Regions from separate parts of the Homo sapiens genome. Here region 1 is linked to region 2. A link means that fine-mapping ties the variant in region 2 to the expression of a gene that starts in the linked region. Tissue or cell type: unexposed skin. Region 2 holds a variant in brackets; the other region holds the start of a gene. All regions are shown on one strand. Distances are from middle to middle.

What was found. PIP is the estimated chance that this variant, and not a neighbour inherited with it, causes the effect.
Region 1: it holds the start of LCE5A, and the variant in region 2 is fine-mapped to the expression of LCE5A in unexposed skin (GTEx, PIP 0.92).

What each region holds. Positions count from the first base shown.
Region 1 is chr1:152,505,782-152,514,083 of GRCh38, reverse strand. LCE5A (late cornified envelope 5A) reads right to left here and starts at 3,281. Exons shown (of 2, transcript NM_178438.5): 1 at 3,086-3,281; 2 at 1,907-2,570. The coding sequence starts at 2,549. The coding sequence ends at 2,193.
Region 2 is chr1:152,786,694-152,794,898 of GRCh38, reverse strand. LCE1E (late cornified envelope 1E) reads right to left here. Exons shown (of 2, transcript NM_178353.2): 2 at 6,473-7,621. The coding sequence starts at 7,599. The coding sequence ends at 7,243. Among named protein-coding and RNA genes, the nearest start is that of LCE1E, 4.5 kb to the right of the region's middle. The variant G/A (reference allele first, on the strand shown) is at 4,490.

The sequences.
Region 1 (8,302 bases), 280 kb after region 2:
TGGTAGTTCACCTATTTTTATCTTGATTCTCATCTCTCTGGCTCTTGGTCCTTGGCTCCCCAGGGCAGACCACAAGCTATGCGATAAGCCTGCTGGGTTTCATCCATATGCTTCAAGATGCAGTGAGTGAAGATGATGACGGGGATGCACCTTTGGGAACCCCAGGGGTGATTTCTCTCTGTCACTGGAGACAGGAAGAAAAACCTAGGCAAAGTTAAGGAACCATAAGACCAGAAAAGTTGTGAATGTAGTCAGGTTGCCATATCCCCATAATACAGCATGGTATGACAAAGAGAAAAATGTGTGCAGGACAGTGGCCCAATTGCAAAAAGGCTAGTCAGCCTGTGGGACTCCTGCTTCTTATCCCACCCCCAACCACCAATCTGCCTTTGAAGATAAGTTCTCCCTAGGGCCACTGCCCAGTGCAAAAGAAAATGGGAAAGGAAGAAGGGAGGGAGGGAAAGAAGAAAAAAAAGAGAAAGAAAGAAAGAAAGTTCTTTCCAAAGGTCCAAAGTGTTCATGATAGATAGTGTTTTCAGAATAACTAATTTTTAAGAATTGGAGGATACTTTGGCAGTCAACTTCAGAACTGCTTCTTAATCAAATTGCCCACAACTGTGAATGTGAACTATAACAGAAGTCCAAGACTAAGAATTCAGGAATTAAGGATGAGAGACAGGTTTGGGGGCGAGTGAGCTGGGAGTGGCTCAAGGGACTAGGCGAGGAAAGATAAGTCACAAAAGATACCAGTTTCATTTAACATGGATTTAGAGCCTGATTAACAGGTTGCCAGTTCCTAGAGCACCTGTTGGTGAGTATAGGTGAGACATTCCAAAAAGTAAAGTCAATATTAGAACAGAGAAGGAAGTAATGAAATAACAAGACAGAGGCAGGATCTCCTCTGGGAAAATGGGCAAAGTTCTTTTAAAAAAAAAAAAAAAGAATGAAGAACGTTTGGTAGGAATCAGTATAAGGAGATAATCTGGGCAAGTGCCTACTCATTCTGTGGGCATCCTATGATCTCATAAACCAGCTTACTTTATTTATCGCTATTAACTCTTATCAAAGGAGGCATCAATTGTTTATCTTTTATATTAAAGGCTGATTTGGAATTAACTTTTCTAGTTATCTTTTCTAGGTACATTATGAGTGTCTCCTGAAGGAACCAGCCCATTCCTAAAGAAATGTTGCTTGGAAAACCCAACACAGGGACCAAAACCCCTGTACTCTTATACCTCTCACTGCACACACACACACACACACACACACACACACACACACGTACGTCCCAACCACATAGAGACAGTCTTTGCAAAGAAGGGTGTCTTTCTCAGTTCTTTACCCAGATTCAAATCCAGGATTTCAGCATGCAGGGAAAATGTGCTCAGACGTTTCATATCTGCCTCCAAAACTCACTCACTGCCCACCCAGCTCTCCCTCTAGCCAACTGATGGAAACACCTGAGCTTATAATAATCAGAAAAGTAAAGAGTGTCCATTTATTAGAGCCCAGGATGAGCACTTCAGGCAATCTTATTCCCCATGAATGGGGACAAGCAATTTTTCAAACTGTGACCCATGCTTGAAGGAAACCCTCTCAGAACCTGAACCTTTTGAGTACAACCATCCTCTTCTCTTCAAACCCATTCCTGGCTCTCCTCATACAATCTTGTGTCTGGCGTAATGGTCTCAGACATTATTCTTTCCTTCAAGCTTAAAGTTCCAGAATCCAGTGCATAGAAGGAAATATTGTTTTCCAGAGGCCTAAGTAGCTTCACTGCCAAAATGTGCTTCCTAAACAAGTTTGTAAAGTGTTCGCTTGCATTTAAGAGAAGGGAAGGGAAGATGGCTTGATGCAGCAGGTAGGGAGTGGGAGAGGCAAACAATGAAATCAGGAGGCAGTGATATCAGGAATAAAAAGCTTTATTGTTACAGAGAAAATAGCTTCATAACTGAATTACAACACCTAGTTCTCCAAAGAGCTATGTCTGAGAGGGAAAGCCAGGCCAGAAAATATCACAAGCTAGACTTCAACCCTACAATGGAGTGAACATGGGCAGGATAAAGAGGGGAACTTAAGGCATTTCCGAAGTCCTTCCATGGGAAATGAGAGAAAAGAAGCCTCAGGCTGACACACATCTTCAGCACCTGGGATCTGCCAGTCCTTCTCCTCCGTGCTCCTCATGGCCCAGGTCAGCAGCAGCCTCCAGAGCTGTGGCAGCAGCCAGAGCCCCCAGAGCTGTGGCAGCAGCTGGAGCCCCCAGACTGCTGGCCACTGCCACTGCCACAGCAGCTGGAACTCTGAGGTCGGCGTCGGAGGGACTGGCGGGGCCTGTGGTGGCTCAGGCAGCAGCCACCACCCTCAGAGCTGCAGCAGCCCCCAGAGCTGGAACCACAGCAGGAAGAGACTGGAGGTGGGCATGGGGCTGAACACTGGGGAGGGCATTTTGGGGGACACTTGGGAGGACACTTAGGAGTACACTTGGGAGGGCATTTAGGGGTACATTTGGGAGGAGGCTGGCACTGCTGCTGGCTCTGCTGGCAGGACATCTCTGTAGAAGCTGAATAAAGCTGAAAGACAATACAAGCCCAAGGTCACTTCCTTGCCCTTAAAATTGAACTATAATTTCACAAGATTTTATCTCTAAGATGACCAGAATTTATTATTATGATTATTATTATTATTTGGGATGGAGTCTCACTCTGTCACTCAGGCTGGAGTGCAGTGGTGCTATCTCGGCTCACTGCAACCTCCACCTCCCGGATTCAAGTGATTCTCCTGCCTCAGACAGGTGTGCACCACCACACCCAGCTAATTTTTGTGTTTTTAGTAGAGACGGGATTTCAGCATGTTGGTCAGTCTCGAACTCCTGACCTCTTGACCCGCCCACCTCAGCCTCCCAAAGTGCTGGGATTACAGGCATGAGCCACTACTCCTGGCCTAAGATGAACCAGATTTTAAAAACCCAGTCTCCCAAGACCAGTAACAAGAATGATACAAATGATTTCCACCTAGTAACTCCATATTTTCAAATGAATAACTTGGAACTTCAGAAAGGCATCAGTCCTTCATTCCTTTTACCTACCTTCCACCCTCCCCTTCCAGAAGAACCTTCCCCTCCAAAATCCTTCTTTATCCTTGTCTTTCTTCAAGAATGGCCTCAACCTCCACCCAGGGGCTCTTTCTGCCCAAAACACCAGCACCAAGAGTTCATCCTGGTCCTGAGAAGCACTCTACCTGGTTCAGGCACTGCAGCAGATCACTCAGGAGACAGGTAGACTGAGGTGCTGTCAGAAGCTTCTGCCTTTTATACAATTCAGTCCTGACCTAGCATCAGGAGGTGCAGACCATGTGCGGGACGCTAGAAGCATCTTTCATAAAGGCATGGGTGACTCCCTCCCCTCGCATCCCAGGGACCCAGTTCCTCCCTGCATAAGCATCTCAAGTATTAACCCACAGGAAGATCCCCTGAGAACTGCAGGCCTCTAGGATGGTGAGGGAGCTCTGTGAATTGCACATGGCACCTATCTATCTCACAGGCAGCTCTGCTATGCCTTCTATTTTCTGAGCTGGGCCAATACGGCTCTACACCTCTGGAATGAACAGAAGTTCTGTTTTCTCTTTGGTATAGGAACTGAAGGAGAAAATTCCCAAGATGGAAATTAAATGGCCCTTTTTAGAATAATAATAGAGATCCAAAATAAAATTGTAGGCCCAAGCAAATAATCTAACATGATTTTTTTTTCATTTCTAGATGATGCCATAACCAGAACAAGGAAGGTTTGATATCTCAGTGATGTTATTTTAGGCAGATCTAATGCTGACAGTGTGGGTGGTTGGGCTTCTCTCCTTGCCTGAATTTGATGCTCCAAAACTGCTCACAAACAGTACCGATTCAGCACTAACAATGCCTTTAAAAGGGCAGAAGTCTAGGAATGGCTTATTTACTCGTGTTAAAGAAGGTGCCCTTGGCCAGCTCGAGGTGAGGCAGCAAAGACCAGGTGTATACTGAGGGTGGAGCAAAAGCTCTCCACTCATCTGGAGGTTTCCAGAAGTGAGGCACCAGTTCTGGTCATTCATAAGAGAAGAGCATCCAACCTGGGAAGGACCTCAGGAGAAGATTAATCTTTGGATGGAGAGGTGAAGAGGAGGAGTATATAGGTTTTAAAAGCCCATGGTGGGATCCAAAACATTTTCTCAGCAAACAATATTCTGAGGGAAAGTTGGGTCCCCAGGATAGTTATCAAAATTGACTTAGCTGGAAAGGGTGGCCAAAATATGGCATATTCACAATGAAAGCTGCAGTGAGAGAAAATAAGACTGGGAGAAAAAGGCAGTACCTTAGCTCCATGCTCTTTGAAATGGGCTGCAGTGAGAAGCATCAGCCCAGTTATAACACAGACCCTGGAGAGGGACATCCAGCATCAGTTCCCACCCTTGCTCTCTCCACCTGTGCAACCTCTGGCAAGTTACTTAACCATCACTGGAAAAGGGGGCTGAAAACATTCCTAATCCACTGAATAAAGAAATACAGATGAAGTTCTTAGCACAGTTCCTAGAACTGCAAGTTTAAAAAAGAAAAAACTAATCACTATGGCTATCCTTATTTCCATGAGAAAATATATGCTAAATTTCAAATTACTGACCTGCCAATTTTGAAACCAAAACTAATTTTTATGATATCAGAACTTAGACTCGATGTTTTCTTACAGCAAAATATTAAGAGTATTTGCTTGTCACTAGGGAATGAGATTATAAAGAAAGCATACTCATTATTTAAAAACACCAAAAAATAGGAAGAATTTTAAAATCACCTATAATCCCATCCCTAAAATATGGTTACTATTTTGCTATTTTCCTTCCCGTCATTTTTTTCTATATATAGTGGTTTTGTTGTTGTTGTTGTTATTTGAGTTTTGTTTGTATTTTACATAGTCTTTCTCATAGTACTTACATGAGTTTACTTTACTAACTTTTCACTTAACATTTTAACATCAACATTTCCCATGTTATTCGTTGTTTGGAAGCATTATTTTTGGTAGCCATAAGAACATTTCATGAAGGGCACAGAATCTATTTATAAGTGGTTGGGAGCGTGAGTTCTTTTTTTTTTTTTTTGAGACTGAGTCTTGCTCTGTCACCCAGGCTCGAGTGCAGTGGTGCGATCGATCTCTGCTCACTGCAAGCTCTGCCACCTGGATACACGCCATTCTTCTGCCTCAGCCTCCCAAGTAGCTGGGACTACAGGCACCTGCCACCACGCACGCCCGGCTAACTTTTTGTATTTTTAGTAGAGACGGGGTTTCACTGTGTTAGCCAGGATGGTCTTGATCTCCTGACCTCGTGATCCACCCACCTCGGCCTCCCAAAGTGCTGGGATTACAAGTGTGAGCCACCGTGCCCGGCTGGGAGCGTGAGTTCTAAATCCAGTCTCTGGGTTTGAATCCCAACTCCCCACTTACCAGTGGTGTGACTTTGAACAAGTGATATGAGCTTTCCACCTCACTGTCCTCGCCTGTGAAATGGTCAAAAAAGTAGTGTTTATCTCATGGGGCCATTAAATTGAGTTAACATACCTAAAACTCTTGTAAAAGTGCCCGGCATATAGTAAGCATTCAATAAATGTTTAAAATGAAAACTGATGCTGTGTCACTTCTAAATTCCAGCACTCAGGGCAGGCCTAGATAAAGACCACAGGGTTGGGGCGTCGGATCTGTCTCTGCCCTCCTTGTGGAGAAGTATAAGCAAGAAGGTAGAACACAGGCTCTGAATTTCTGGAAAGGGAATCCCAGTAAAATTAAAGGAATTACCCATTTAAAACATGGGTTTGGTGAATTCTAAAAGGAACAATGTCCATCCCCTTTTAGTTATAATTGTTTGGGCACACGACCCACCTATCTGACCACATGGTAAGGTCTTTAGTGCAGGAATCCCTAAGGGGTCTAATTTAGTGCCTTGTAGGCAGCAGGTGCTCAGTTTTCATTTCCTTGTTCAGTTGAATTTACTATTCAGCAAGCAAGATGAATGCCTCAAACAAATCCAAACCCAGATTTTCATTAACAAATTCTAGACATTTCATGGGATGATAGAATAGTTGTGGAAAGGACCTTGGCCATCATTCAGAGCCGGTGGTTCTCAACCCCGGTGAGATCTAGGCTTTGACATTCTCCAGACGTCCATCAAGTGGCTCTGCTGCACCACTGGGATTGATAATTGCTGATTTAGATCATGCCCCTTGTTTGACAGAAAAGGAACCTGAGACTTAGAGATGGAAAAAGGCTTTCCCTGGATCACATGGAGAGTTGGGAGCAGAGATGGAATTCAAAACCTGCTATCTGCCCTCTCTCCATCATAGCACTCTGCCTCTTGAATAGTATTTTATTTCTTACTGTGATTTTTTCCAGCAAGATTTATTTTATATAATTTGCTTGTTAAACATGGCTATTGAATTTGGAGTGAAAATAGTAATAAATATGGGGAATCACAGCCTGAATTGCACATATGAAAAAATTGGAAGTGATCATTACCTCTACTAAATAACCAGGGATTGATTACCTGTGTTGGACAGGCAGTGTCTGGCATTGCCAGGGATAGGCCAGCTGGCAGACCCCCAAGAACCCTCCCCAGGATGGCACTATCTGGATGACTGTTCCCTAGCCCAGAAGTCCAACTCTTAGCCTTAGCATGGCTAAGTTCCTTAGTCCATGTCCCTGAGCTGATTAATCCTGTGGAGACTGATTCACTGCACCTAACTCACAAGAGACTGTGATGACATCAACTTACAAAGAGAAACCTGAGTGTCAATGTTGGCAGGTACATTGTCTTCCTGTAGGAAAACTCCTGAAAGAAGTCATCATAATCTGCCAGCACTCAGTGAGCATGAGGTTGCATAACAACCTCAGGTTTTGATGGTGAGCAAAACTAGACATGCCCCTTAGGTCATCTGAACACCGCCAGCCCTGGACAGATTTGGGAGCCCTGAAAACATTTGTCCCTGACCTCCCTTTGCTTCTCTGTGCTGGACTGTGGCCTGGGAACTGCCTCCATGAGGGCCTTTGCACAGTGTTGCTCTCACCCACTGCAGGCTGATTCTGGAGTTTAACACTGGAAAGGGAATTTTTCTATTTGTCTTATTCCCACTGCTCACTGTTGCCCTGATGTAAAGTCTGAATAGTGTACAGAATAATGCCCACCCCTCCTGTGCATAGATGTCCACATTTCAATCCCCAGAACCTGTGAATATATCACCGTACACAGCAAAAGGAACTTTGAAGATGTGATTAAGTCAGGGATCTTGAAATAGGGAGATTTTCCTGGATTATGCAGGTGGACTCACTGTAACCACAAAGGTCCTTACAAGAGGGAGGCAAAAGGGTCAACGTCAGAGAGGGGAGATTTATCAGCAGAAGCAGAGGCTGGAGTGAGGCATTTTGAAAATGTAAGAAGGTGACAGAAGCCAAGGAATATAAGCAGCTTCTAGCAGCTGGGAAAGGTAAGAAAATAGATTTTTCCCTAGAGCCTCCAGAAGGAATACAGCCCTGTCAACAGCCTGATATTAGCCTAGTGACACCTATGCCAGTCTGACCTGCAGAACTATAAGATAATACCTGTGTGTTGTTTTCAGCAACTAAATTTGCAGTAATTTGTTACAGCAGCAATCAAAACCAATCAAGAGGATCCTCAATGCCTCTGAGGCTAATAGAATGTCGTCAGGCCAAGGGAAGCTCAGTGAAGAGGTGACAGAGAAAACTCTTACAGATAGATAAAGTGCTGTCTGGGTTGTCCCAGCTCTGCCCCTTGCTAGCTATGTGACCCCTTGGACCTGTTTCCTCAGCCATAAAATGAGGATAATAACAGTGCTTATGGCCATGCTTGTTGTATGAGGACTCCATGAGATAATGCCTGCAAAGCCCTTCATCCTAGACTTGGCACATAAGAAGCGCTCAGTAATTTTTAGCCCTTCTTATTCTGGTCATTATTAGTCTTGTCCTCACCATCATCAGTGAAAACAGAGATGTCATGATGGTTGCCAGTGCATTCCTGGGTCCCTCCACTGGACTTAAAGCTCCCAGCTACTTATTTCCTGGACTGGAGCTTGAAGAATTCCATAGAGTAGGATGGACAACTTGCCACCACTTTGGGCTTATTTGAATTTTCAAGATACTACTTGCACCTCTTCTCAGGAAGACGAGAGCTTCTTATTCTTTAACCTCTGGAGAGCATTTTACCATTTATGAGGTGTTTGTGCATTCCTTCCTTTACTGGAATCTTTTCAACAACCCAATTTTGTAGAAGAGAGGGT
Region 2 (8,205 bases):
TATGCTTCTCCCTGCAGTGCATGCCGTGGCCTCTACCCTTCCAGGACAGTGTGGCTCAATCCCACTTTTTTATTTATCCTTCATGTGGCATATCACTCTAATGAGATAACAGTAAATGCTTTGATGGCCTGCCTTGGGTGTTTCATACTTCTTACCTCCGTTTTTCAACACAGAGCTATGTGCACAATGGATATTTAATGACTTTTAAATGCTCTCATTGGTATTAGCATTGATTTACAGTTTATAAACAGCTATTCCTTATGACTCAGGCCACCCTCATAGGAGACACACTCTGAGACAGGCTCAGTGAGGTGTGTGGGCCACATCACCCTGAGAGGTCTGACACCATCCCTCCTGGGTATGACATTTGTTCTCCTGCTCAGATTGTTCCAAAGGGCTTAGTAATGGGGGAGTGGTCAGGACATTGGTTCCCAGGTCGTCACAATGGCAGGTCTACTCAGAAGTTCAACTCCTGGTATCTAGGATGATAGGGCTGGGATACCATCTGGTCCATGCCTCTGTCTTCATGCAGGGCAACACCCAAGCTCTCAACTGACATAACTCAGATGTAGGTGTTGAGTCAGCAACATAGTTGTATTAGGAAGATTGGAACTTGAATCTTGGCTATGAGATATCATGGCTTAGCTATTAGGTCAAATAAGATATCTTGTCCAGCAAAGCACTGACTTTCTGAAATTTCCTATTTGTCAAGGTTTTTCTCTTTTAGGTAGTCAAAAATTCACCGTCTCATGGGATGTGAGTGAATACTATTGCGATCTAACCAGAAATAATTCAAATGGAATAATTTTTTGTATGTGTTCTATAACCAGTAACAAGTTAAGTTAGTAATCTTTGTTTTGTTCTTTCCATATCTACAACCCTTTAAACAATTACAGTGATGAGAAAATACTATTAAAGTCTAGAAGAAAATTCTATTCTATTTAAATAGTATATTTTAAAAATATTTTTATTGCTGTTGTTGTTATGATTGTTAATATATTGATATACTGCAACTGTGTTGAACTCTCCTAAATTTTTGCAGTGAATACTTTCCTAAAAAAATTGGTAAAATACATAATCCAAAATTTACTGTCTTAATCATTTTTTTAGTGCACAGTTTAGTAATGTTAAATAGCATCACATCGTTGTGTAGCCAATCTCTAGAATTTTTGTCTTCTTGCAACACTGAAACTCTACGCTCATTAAACAACAGTTCTCTCTTACTCCCTCTCCCCAGCCCCTGGCAATCACCATTTTACTTTCTTTTTCTATGAAATGGACTACACCCCATATCTCACATAAGTGGAATCATACAGTGTTTGTCTTTTTGTGACTGGCTTATTTGATTTAGCATATCTTTAGGATTCATTCATATTGTAGCATGTGCATAAATTTCTTACCTTTTTAAGGCCATATAATATCACATTGTATGTGTATGCCTCCTTTTGCTTCTATAATCATCCAGCAGTGAATGCTTGGATTGCTTCCACCTTTTAGCTATTGTGAATAATAAAGCTATGAACGTGGGTGTACAAGTACCCTGTCAAGACTCTACTTTCAATCTTTTTGTATTGTATATACCCACAAGTGGAATTGCTGGACCCTATGTTAATTCTATTAACTTTTTGAGGAATCACCATGCTCTTTTTCATAGTAATTATACCATTTTATATGCTCACCAACAGTGCACAAGGGTTCTAATTCCTCCACATCCTCACCAACACTTGTTATTTTCTGTTTTGTTTTGCTTTATTTTTTATAGTAGTCATTCTCTCGGGTTTGAAGTGATATCTTACTGTGGGTTTTACTTTAAATAATTTAATCTAATTATGAATGGTGTTGAGCATACTTTCATGTGTCTTTTGGCTATTTGTAAATTTCTTTTGGATAAGTGTCTATTCAAGTTTTTTTTTCCATTTTTAATAAGGTTGTTTGTTTACTTGTTGTTTAATTGTGGGGGTTCTTTACATATTTTGTATAGCAACCCACTACCAGATACACGATTTGCTAATATTTGCTCCCATAACAAAGATTTCCTTTTCATGGTATTGACTTTGTTCACTGATTCACATACATTTCTAATGTTTATGTAGTCTAATTTATCTATTTTTACATTTGTTGCCTGTGCTTTTGGTATCATAGTTAAGAAATCATTGTCAAATCCAATGTCATGAAGATTTCCTCCTATGTTTCCTTTTAGAAATTTTGTAGTTTATTTATTTATTTATTTATTTTGAGATGGAGTCTTGCTCTGTCGTGCAGGCTGGAGTGCAGTTGCATGATCTTGGCTCACTGCAACCTCCACCTCCCGGGTTCAAGCGATTCTCCTGCCTCAGCCTCCCAAGTAGCTGGGACTACAGGTATGCACCACCATACACAGCTAATTTTTGTATTTTTAGTAGAGATGGGGTTTCACCATGTTGGCCAGCCTGGTCTCTATCTCTTGACCTTGTGATCTGCCTGCCTTGGCTTCCCAAAGTGCTGGGATTACAGGGGTTAGCCACCACGCCCAGCCTGTAGTTTTAACTCTATGTTTATGTCTTTGATCCTTAATGAGTTAATTTTTGTGTATGGTGTAACCTGAGGGTCCAGCTTCATGCTTTTGCATGTGCATATCTAAATTTCCCAACACCACCTGTTGAAAAGATTGTCCTTTCTCCATTGAGTGGTATTGGCACCCTTATCAAGAATCATTTTAATCAGCTAGGCATGATAGTTTGTGCCTATAGCTCCAGCTACTCGGGAGGCTGAGACAGGAGGATTGCTTGAGTCCAGGAGTTTGAGTCCTGCCTGGGCAACATAGCAAGATCCTGTTTTTGGACAAAAAAAGAATAATTTGACCATATATATGAAGGTTTATTTATTTTAAGTTTCTCTGCTACTCTTCTATTCTATTTCATTGACCTATATGTCTATCTTTATGCCAATAACACATTATTTTCATTATGGTTGCTTTGTTGTAATAAATTGTGTTAATTTACTTTTATTTTTTTTTAGAGACAAGGTCTCACTATGTTGCTCAGGCTTGTCTAGAACTCCTGGGATCAAGGGATCCTCTATCCTCTGCCTCCTGAGTGGCCGAGACTACAGGTATGCACCACTATGTCTGTCTGTGATAAGTTTTAAAGTCAGGAAGTATGTGACTCTAACTATATTTTTCTTCTTCAGCATTGGTTTGGCTATTTGAGGAATAATTCACAATTAGTCAAGGTGTATAATCCTTTTGATATGCTGTTGAGGATTTTTATCATCCCTCAATATCATCAGAGATATTGTTATGTAGTTTTCTGGCTTTGGCATCAGGATAATGCTGGCCTCAGAGAACGAATTCATAAATGTCCTCATTTCTTCAATTTTTTGGAAGCATTGAGTAAGATTTGTGTTGATTTCTCTTCAAATGTTTGGTAGAATTAATGAGTGAAGCTGTCTGGTCCTGCACTTTATTCTGTTGGCAGAGTTTTGATCTTTGCTAGTTATAGGTCTTTTCAGATTTGTTTCTAGGGATCTATCCATTTCATCTAGGTTATCCAATTTAGCATACAATTGTTCATGGTATTCTCCTATAATTTTTTATTTCTATAAGTTAGTTGTAATGCCTTCCCTCTCATTTTTATTTTAGTTCTTTGATTCTTCTCTTTTTTCTTCTTCAAGCTAGTGAAAAGTTTATCAGTTTTTGTGGTCTTCTCAAAGAACAAACTTTTGGTTTTGTTGATTTTCACTATTGATTTTTCTAGTTTTCACTTCATTTATTTCTGTCCTAATCTTTTTTTATTTCCTCATTCCTTCTACTAGCTTTGATGCAGACGGTTTTTTTTTTTGTTGTTGTTGTTTGTTTGTTTGTTTTATTTTTTTAATTTTCTTTTGGTTTCTTAAGTCTTAAGGTGTAAAACTAGGTTACTGATTTGAGATTTTTTTTCTTTTTAATGTAAGAGTTTATAGGTATAAATTCCTCTCCTAGCACTGCTTTCTTTGCATCTCATAAATTTTGGTATGCTGTGTTCTCATTTTCATTTTCTCAAGATATGTTATAACTTCCTTTGTAATTTTTACTCTGACCCATTGGTTGTATAAGAGTGTGTTGTTTAATTTCCACATATTTGTGGATTTTCCAGTTTTCCTTTTGCTACTGAATTCTAGTCTTATTCCATTGTAGTTGGAAAAAGATATTTGTCTAGTTTCAGTATTTTAACATTTATTAAGACTTGTTTTGTGGGCTTCCGTATGAGGCCTATCCGGGAGAATGTTGCATGTGTATTTGAGATAAATGTGTACTCTGCTAATCCCAGGTGGAATGTTCTGCATATGTCTTTTGGTCCAATTGATGTATAGTGTATTCCATGTCCTCTGTATACTTATTGATATTCTGTATGGTTGTTCTACCTATTACTGAAAGTGGAATATGAAGTCTCTTACTATTATTAAAGACCTCTCCATTTCTCCCTTTAACTCAGTCAATATTTGCTTCGTATATGTTGGAGCTCTGATTTGA[G/A]GCACATGTGTGTTTATAATGGTTCTATATTCTTGTTAAATTATTCCTTTTATCATTATGTAATGTCCTTATTTGTCTTTTGTAACAGTCTTTGAGTTAAAGTCTATTTTGTCTAATAAGTCTCAGGTTTTTTCGCTTTATTTTCATTTTCCTCCTCAAATTCAATAATTTCAAATAACTTGTCTTCAAATTTGCTGATTCTTTCTTCTGCCTCTTTGACTCTGCTGTTGAACTTCTCTAAATAATTTTTCTATTAAGTTATTGTATTCTTCAGCCCCAGAACTTCTTTGTGAGTTTTTGTAAAAATAATTTCTATCTGTTGATATTTTTATTTGTTAATACATAATTTTCTTAATTTTATTAGTTGTCTCTGTGTGTTCTCCTTTAATTCTTTGAGCATTTAAGACAATTGTTTTAAAGCTTCTTCAAGGAATTCAGTGGCTTGTGTTTCTTTAAAGTCAGTTTCTAGAGATATATTTTGTTTCTGTAAATAGGTCAATCCTCTGTCTCTTTACATGCCTTGTGTTTCTTTTTTGTTGAAAATTAGATGTTTGCAAAAACAGCCATGTCTCTCCATCTTTGGGAGCTGGCTCTGTGCTGTGGAAAACCTTCAGTGTAGTGTGAAGGCTCAAGAGTCCTCTCAAACCTTTTCTGGGGATGCACCTTCCCTGAGCAAGTGTTCGTGCTTGTGTTTGTGTTTGTGTGTGTGCACAGACACTTTTGTTTCAGTTCCCTGACTGCTTTTAAATGTCTACATTTTTCAGAGTCTTACTCTTGCTTCTTCTTGGAGACTTTGCCTATGATTTTCCTCTGCTGCTAATCTCTTGTCTTTAGGCACTTGCAAGTCTGCAGTCCCCTTGCAGCTGTTTCATGCCACAGTGCAGCCTCTGCTTTCAGCAGCCTTCAACCGAATATCCAGAATATGCCACTGACTCATTGGTGCTCTAAACTCAGGTGAGACAAAAACCAGTTCCTCACACAGTCCTCACACAACCCACAATCTTGCATGCAAGTTCCACTCTTTTCCTTCCATCTGTAAGAAAGGCTGAGAAATTGCGCAGCCTCCTCTGACCACACCACATTATGCGTAAGATGGGATGGGGTAGGGGTGAGCAAAAGCACCACAAAATTTCCTGCCATTTGAGTATGGTTACTTTCTTTATTAAAACTTTGCTTTGTTGCTGAAGCTTCTTACTTTGTTTTTAAAGTTTTCGGAAAGCTGTTTTTGTCTTTATATCATTGTCCAATGTCTCTGAAGTGAGCTAGAGCCTGGAGGTTCCTTATTTACCATCTTATGTCATCATCTGATGTCACTTCAGCAGTGAACACTCTTAAATATCTATTTTTTATTATTATATTTTGCCTCATTTGCCTAATACTAGAAATCCAATAAGTATTGGTAAATGAATAAATTAATCACCAAATAAATCTGTTGCATGAATTGTTATGCCAGTTAGCATTCTAAATTACAAAGAGTAAGTGATCATTTCCACATAGCTTCAACAACAATGTTTTGTAAGCTAAAATGCTCACAGAAAGCTTGTGAACCAATAATGAGTTCTCATCCCCAAAAGATGAGCTATGCTCTTTTTATTAATGAGATTAAATTGCTTTTAAAATCTAATTTCAGAAGTTATTGGTTTTCTTCATTAATTATTTGTGAATGAAATATGAATTCTGCCAAAACTTTTATAGGAACATTTATTTACTCAGTTTTTATGAACTCTATGTTTCTTACCAATATGAGTCATCTCCCTATCACATATATTATAATTTTCCCAAGTTAATTTTTTACCCTTCCTTGCTTTTAGTGGTACTATCTGATACTTAGAATTTCATTTTAATGTGGTTAACTGTATCCACATTTTCATTTATGTATTCTAGATTTTGTGTTATTTTGAAAATCTTCTCAATAAATTAACTACATTTTTGGTGTGTTATTGCAATTATAGTTATGCAGCTATAAATATTTGACAAAACTCATTTAATTTTACATTTAATTTTATTGAATTTTATTGCATGCAAATTATACAGCACTAAATGTGATTTAATTTTTTTACAATGCAGATTCATCTCATCTATGTGCATGTACATATGTGTGTGTGAATGCATGCACATACAGTATGGAGGAGGAGTCCAGGGAGATTGTTAGTGGAAGGAGTGGGGAACGAGGAACACAAGAATGAAGAGGTGATAGTGGGAAGGAGGATGAAGTCGGCCTCCTGGCCATGCCTGAGGGATGCGGTTACATAGGTGAAAGGAACCAGAATTTGAAAGAAAAATATTTCTCAATGCTATTTCAGTCCCTTGGTTTAAAAGGAAAACACCGAAAGAAGAAAAAACACAAAACACACAGAAATGCAAGCTTTTTCCTCCTGACCCCTTTCCCCATCCTCTGTCCACCAAGGCCTCAGCAGCCACCAGCAGACACAGGGGAGCAGAACAAGGATGACACAAACAGGAAAATCAAGCAGGCTGGTAGCAAGTTGGGGGGCAGATTCTGGATTTTATTTCTTCAGTTCAGGCAGCACAGAATACAGCAGCGTGAGCTGGGGAGGAAGTAGGTGTGTGCTTTGGAGTTCCCAGGGCAGCCATGGATCTGCAGAAGAAAGTCTCTAAATGCCATTAAGGAGAAAGATTTTGGGTTTCCTGACACCAGAGCAGAGGGATTCTCCAGGCAAGACTTCAAGCTTTTGCTGGAACCTCTCAGCTATTCAGGCAGAATCAGAAGGAAGAGGAAGTCAAGGTCCACTTCAGCAGCAGCCTCCAGAGTGCTGGCCGCTGCCCCCTCCACAGCAGCTGGAGCCCCCTGAGGGCTGGCTGCAGCAGTCAGAGCTCTGGGGTCTGTGACGGTGGGACCTGTGGTGCCTGTGGTGGCTCAGGCAGCAGCCACCTCCCCCAGAGCTGCAGCAGCCCCCAGAGCTGGAGCCACAGCTGCCCCCAGAGCTGGAGCCACAGCAGCCTCCGGAGCTGACACTGCAGCAGGAAGAGACTGGAGGGCACTTAGGGGGACACTTTGGAGGGCATTTGGGGGTGGGACACTTGGGAGGGCACTTGGGAGTGCACTTGGGAGGGGGCTGGCACTGCTGCTGGCTCTGCTGGCAGGACATCTCGGCAGTAGGTACTTAGGAGCTGAGGGAGAGTCAGACAGAAAATCAGACCTAGGCAGAGGCCACCTCTGCCCCTCTGACACTCTTAGCATGACTTGTAATTATGGAAACATCATGTCCAGTAGTTTCACTTCCAATACTTTCCCCAAATTCTCTCATCATCTCTTTGCAAGCTCAGGATACCCTTGTGTGTTATCTGCTACACAAAATTGTAAACTAAGACCAAACAATATTACAAAATGCATCTGACAGTCCAAAGTGTTATAAGTGAAGGAGGAAATTATTCCAAATATGTCTTCACACCCTGAAATTATATGATTTATAGGTCATTTAGGGAAAATTATTTCTTAAAGAGAAAAAGTAATCACTACCTTTTGTAACTTGCAAGGTAGTTTTACTCTGCAATATCCATACTACAAAAGATCTTGGATATTACTGGCTCAGTAAACTTACTTTGTTGAAGCAGAGACAGACAAACCCATAAATTCCTGCAGCCCTGGAATTTGAACCCTGGCCTCCTGATCTTAGGCTGGAGCTCAGATTTCCTCAGCTTACCACCTGCTCAGGCTGATGGGTGGGCATGGTGAGTCTCAGGTTTGGTGTGTC